Regions from separate parts of the Homo sapiens genome. Here region 1 is linked to region 2. The links come from fine-mapping of genetic effects on gene expression. A gene starts in region 2. The other region holds a variant in brackets. All regions are shown on one strand. Distances are between the middles of the regions.

Region 1 (2,918 bases), 290 kb before region 2:
TGTCCTTTTGTCTCCTTGAGTCTGCTTTCTTTGGCCTACTACTAATAATATTATAATATGGGAAATAATAGTAATATAGGACATTTTAAATTCTCTCCTCTAAGAAGAGGCCAATACTGGAGAGTGAATACTTGATAAATCAAACTCCCCCTGTCCCCATCCCATACCACCCCATCTCTCTCAATTCCTCACTAAGTGGCTTCCAAGGATGGAGAATGAAGATGAGGAGGCCACATGTCTGGCTTCTGCCTTGCTGAGTGGGCGGTGGCAGTTGGAGGTGATCTGAGGAACTGTGTGGGAGAGGGGGAAGAAATAATGGGATAGATTTTGGTGGAAGGGTCTTCAGGAAATGAGGAGAGATATTGAAAGAAAAGTTGTGTGAGATTTTGCTATCCGGTGTGTGATTTCCTGATTTCCACCCCACCCCTGCCAAATCTCTTGTTTGTTTATTTATATGTTTTTGAGATGGAGTCTTGCTCTGTAGCCCAGGCTGGAGTGTGGTAGTGCAACGTCGGCTCACTGCATCCTCCGCCTCCCAGGTTCAAGCAATTCTCCTGCCTCAGCCTCCCAAGTAGCTGGGATTACAGGTACCCGCCACCATGCCTGGACAATTTTTGTATTTTTAGTGGAGATGGGGTTTCACCATGTTGGCCAGGCTGGTCTTCAACTCCTGACCTCAGGTGAACTGCTCACCTTGGCCTCCCAAAGTGCTGGGATTGCAGGTGTGAGCCACCATACTCAACCAAATCTCTTGTTTAGTTTCAGGATTAACGTGTGGCAGAGTGGGGCACCTATTCTACAAAAATGGTTTAGTGCCAGGTGTGACTTCAAGGTGAGCACAGACCATGAGTGGAAGTGAACTAAGCCCTTCCCCAGCCCCTCTGCTCCAGTTAGTTTAAAACTGCCTCCCTCAACGTGTGACCAGAGAACATAAAGTGCTCTGGGACTCTGGGATGTAGGAGTTAGTCTAAGATGAGAAAACTACCACCATCTCCTCGGGGTCTCATCTACACAGGGAGCCTGTGCACTCTCCGGTCCCCTCAAGCCCAAGTGTGCTGTGAAGTTTGACAGGTGTCATCTCTGGGGTTTCTAAAAGGCTCCCACTAAAGGATGCTTTGTGAAAGTCTGGTTTTCCTTATCAGACACGAATCACCTAAGTCTCTCCTTGTACCCAGATGGCTAAATTTGGTTTATATGATCTCACTGTGACCTTCT[C/G]TTGAACAGCTCTGTGCGTGCTGCCAAAATGAAAATGAACAATGTCAGTGCCATGATGTCCAGTTGAGCTGTGACCTGGATTCTGGTCTCGCATACACAGAAGCAACTGAAAGCTGAGAATGAGGGGCCGCCGATGGCTGGGTGTGTGGGGGCATTGTATTACTTGAGCCCATCCCTTGAAAAGCTTAGGAGTCCTCCACCTCCACTGGGAACTCATCAACTCCTGGCAAGAAGAATGTCCCTGGGCACAGGGGACAGGGATCAGCTGTCCGAGGTGAGAGTCCTCCCTGGTGAGCCCACACCTCCACGTGGGGCACTGCAGGCTGTGAAGAAAGGTGAGCAAGATGACAGTGTCGCTGCTGCTCCAGAAAGTAGGATGCAGGGCCCATCTGGCCTCGGCCCCCACACTTCTCACTCCCTGCTCTGTTGGTGCCAAGGCTTGACTTGCCTGTGAAAGGAAATGAGAAAATCACCTTGGAATTAAAAGACCAACAACAAATAGTCAACCTTGGAAGGGTCGGGCTGAAGACTCTTTTCGAAATACAGATGGAGGATAGAACAGAATGCTTGGGACCAGAAGTGTTTTGGACTTTGGACTTTTAGATTTTGGAGTATTGTCATTGTATTTACTGGCTGAGCATCTCAGATCTGAAAATCTGAAATCCAAAATGTTCCAACGTGCATTTCCTTTGAGCATCATGTCCGCCCTGAAAAAGTTTTGTATTTTGGAACATTTTAGATTTTTGGATTTGGGATGCTCAAACCTGTATTAGGTTGAACCATATAAAACTGCCAGCGTTGGTCATTTTTGACCAGCAAAAATGTCAATTTCATATGGTTCAAACTGACGTGATGGTGATTCCCCTTCTAAGTCTTCCCACTGCATTTGGAATAAAGACCATTTTTTTATTTTTATTTTTTTCTTTTGAGACAAGGTCTTGCTCTGTTCCTGGGCTGGATTGCATTGGTGCTATCATAGCTCACTGCAGCCCTGAACTCCTGAGCTCAAGTGATCATCGTCTCAGTCTCTTGAGTAGCCGGGACTACAAGTGCCTGCCATCAGGCCTGGCTAATTTTTTATTTTTTGTAGAGACAGCATCTTACTACATTGTCCAGTCTGCTCTCGAACTCCTGGGCTCAAGTGATCCTCCTGTCTCAGCCTCCCAAAGTGCTGGGATTACAGGTGTGATTGGCCTAAGACCAAATATTCTTGACTGAGCCCACCGGGCTCCCCCAACTCTCTGTCCAGCTTCACGGCTATACTTTTTGATCCTGCTATTCTCCTAACAACCTCTCCACCTCTTAGTCTTGCTCATTCTGTGCCCTTCCTGAAGGATCCCCTCTCTTCCCCAAGTAACTCATCCTTCAGATATGTGTTTGAATGCCAGTTTCATGGGAAGTCTTTTCTGACTAGGCTTTTCTGCTCCTCAATGTGCTCAGAGCACCTTCACTTTCCCTAGGAGGTGTGATCCCGGCTTGTATTGATGGATCAGTGTCCGTGTTGGATGCTTGCCTCTCCCCCAAGGGGCCCTGCAGCCAGACACCTGGAGGTCCCTCCATGTGATTGGTCATGGAAGCTTTGCCTTGTTGATACTTGTTTGAATGCTCTGTATTGAAGTAATAATTTGCATGACCATACGATAAAGGATTTTGCATTCTCTGTTCAATAGGAACTTTACCAACAGCCCTCAGACCATGAGAGT
Region 2 (2,918 bases):
ACTACAACCTAGCCCCCTCCTAAGCCAGCTCACTGGGCCTCTGGATGAAAAGGGGTTGCTGGACTAGCCGCACCCAAAGACCATCATTCAACAGTTGTTCTTGTCCAGAAGGCCACTCACTGCTCCCATTTAATGCCGACTGGGGCCAGGCAGGTGGTGGGGGTTACTTGCACCAGGCCAGAAAAGCAAATCTAAAGAAAAACAGCTGCTACTGCTGAAGACAGCAAGGGCCAGACAAAATAAGTCTCTGGGCAGCGTGCAGGTAGAAAGTTGACAGTTAAAAAGTTCCTTTTGAGGAGGAAGGTGGTGTCACCTGTTTTGTGTTTCAAGCATTCAAGAGCAAACAGTATGTCTGATTTTTTGTTTGTTTGTTTCTTAATTAGGAAAGAGCAAACAAGTATACCATTGTAGTGGGCCTCATGTCAGGGCATGGGAGCAGCATCCAGGGTAGAAAGCCTGTTGGGCCCTCAGCTCCTGGGGCTGTCTGTCTAGGCCAGTCTCCTCTCTTCTGTGGAATTCTGCAAGTCCATGTTCAGGGGGTGATGCTCTCGGTCTGACGGTGAAGGAGTTAAATTTTTTTGTCATTCATACCTCCTGGAGACCCTCTCCAGTAAGTGTCCTTCGGCCATAATAAAACTTCGTCCCTAGTGTGGTGGCTCACGCCTGTAATCCCAGCACTTTGGGAGGCCGAGGCAGGTGGATCACTTGAGGTCAGGAGTTCGAGATGAGCCTAGCCAAGACGGTGAAACCCCATCGCTACTAAAAATACAAAAATTAACCCCATCTCTACTAAAAATAGAAAAATTAGCCAGGCATGGTGGCGGGTGCCTGTAATCACAGCTACTCAGGAGGCTGAGGCAGGAGAATCACTTGAACTCAGGAGGAGGAGGATGCACTAAGCTGAGATCACGCCACTGCACTCCAGCCTGGGCAATGGGGCAAGGCTCTGCCTCAAAAAAACAAAAACTTCCCTCTGGAATTCCCATAGGCATTGCAAACAACAGAATTCAATCTTCCTGGACATCCAGGATCATTAGGGGCTTTTTATCAGCTAGTGCAAGAGGAGCAGGAATTATTACGAGCTTGCTGCCTGTAGGATTAACTGGGTCCTTTGGGACACACACCACTGGGGACAGAGGAGGGTGAGCGTCACTGTTACAAGTAACCAAGAGGGAAATCCTGTTGAGAAAGTTGCCTTAAACACATTAGTTATCTTTTAATACACGTATGTAATCCTCACAACAAGTCCTTTAAGTAAGCAGTACTCGTAGCTCCATTTTACTGAAAAAGAAACTGAGTTTTAGGGAAACTAAGTGACTAGGCCAAGTTCTCACAGCTATAAAGTGGCTGTGACTGTAAACCCAACAGTTTGAATCAAGGACCTGTAACTGTCACCACTAAGCTGTGGAGTAGTGACAGCATTAGCTTCCAAGTATGTGCCAGCCACACTTTCTGAGCAACCTTATACTTGAAATGTAGACATCGTGTAGAACCTACTCTCCTGTACTCACAGTTGAGATAGGATTAAACCCCAATTTCAAAGCCCCTTACAGAGTTCCACTTACCAGGTTATTTCAGCCGGCAACCAGGAACTAGACTGAATGCAATCCTCCCACATCCAAGGTCTATGAGGAAGTGCTCTCACTTCCAAAGTCTGCAGGGGAAGTGCTCTCATTGGATGTCCAACTGGCCCCGCCCCCAGAGTCACATTAGGGTTACCCCAGGGGCCCCTGGGAAATGTAGTTGCAGGGACTCAGGTTGCTCCTGTGGACCCCTTATTCATATCTTACCATAAAAAAGGGTGGAGAGTTGTATTGTCCGATTATCCCCATGCCACCGGCTGGGAGGACTGTGCTCTTATATTTCACCTGGTTCCTGCTCTCTGGGAGCCTGACACTAGATGTCCCATGTGTGATGTGGAACGTGAGAGCTTGGAACAGGTCCAGGAAAAGCAGAACTGGTAACCTAGAGGAGGCAAAAGAGGAAGATGGAAGGCTTTAATCACACTCCAAGTTTATGGTATACTTTCTTCATCAGTTCCCATTAGACTTCTTTTAAAAATTTTTCTTCCCTTCATCCATCATCCTCATTCCCACTGGCCTCTCTACCTGAAGGCACTGGGCAATGTGTCTGAAAGAGCCCCATGTGTGTGGTATGAGGGTGATATATGTCATATGGCTTTGTTTATGCTGGTGTTTTTTATTTACATTCATGGTATTGATCTACAACTCTTGCTGTTTCTTATGCATTTTTCTCTATACAACATAATTTTTGTTTCTTTATTGACCCAATATACATGTTTACAGGGTACAATGTGGTGTTCTTATACATACATACATTGTGTAATGATCAAATCATGATAATTAGCACATCTATCACTTCAAACATTTATCATTTCTTTGTTTTGAGAACATTCCACCAGTGAGTGTTTCCTTGTGCTGTGCCTTCGGCACCTACTGTTCTAGAACATGCCTCTGGCGTCCTGCCACGTGAACTCGGGACTCTATGCGAAGGCTTTCTCTTGGCATGTCCTCAGGCAGGCTAGATAGACTTGAAAACTATGGGTCTGGGACCACTATTCAGCCCAGGATGTTGGGAGTTGGAGGCCACATATCTTTGTGCTGTACCTGGTCAGGTGGAATTACCCTTAGGCTTGTATAACACTGCCTCCTGGTGTTGTCCAGTGGAATTATGCTCCCTTTGTTCACAGGTAGCTTGCCAATGATGCACCCTTTATTGATTGTCAAACTGCCCTGGTCTCACTGTCCCGCGACAACTCCTGCACTGGTACGTCCTTAAATCATCTTCCAAATAATCTACCTGAATGCAAATCTTTGTTTTAGGGTCTGGCGGAAGGCCACTTTAGTTAGGTGGTTGTGAAGTGGACTGGAACTTGGATTCCTCCTGCTGAGGTAGCA

Direction of the effects. Alleles are on the strand shown, and positions count from the first base shown. SD is a standard deviation of normalised expression in the study named.
As copies of C replace G in region 1, the expression in cerebellar hemisphere of the gene that starts at base 1,637 in region 2 goes down (moderate effect, 0.52 SD a copy in GTEx).

What was found. PIP is the estimated chance that this variant, and not a neighbour inherited with it, causes the effect.
Region 1: its variant is the best candidate, but not a certain one, in a credible set for the expression of NAT1 in cerebellar hemisphere (GTEx, PIP 0.78).

The regions. Positions count from the first base shown.
Region 1 is chr8:18,497,307-18,500,224 of GRCh38, reverse strand. No RefSeq gene overlaps it. Among named protein-coding and RNA genes, the nearest start is that of NAT2, 110 kb to the right of the region's middle. The variant C/G (reference allele first, on the strand shown) is at 1,216.
Region 2 is chr8:18,208,828-18,211,745 of GRCh38, reverse strand. It overlaps NAT1 (N-acetyltransferase 1), which reads right to left and starts at 1,637. Exons shown (of 3, transcript NM_000662.8): 1 at 1,566-1,637.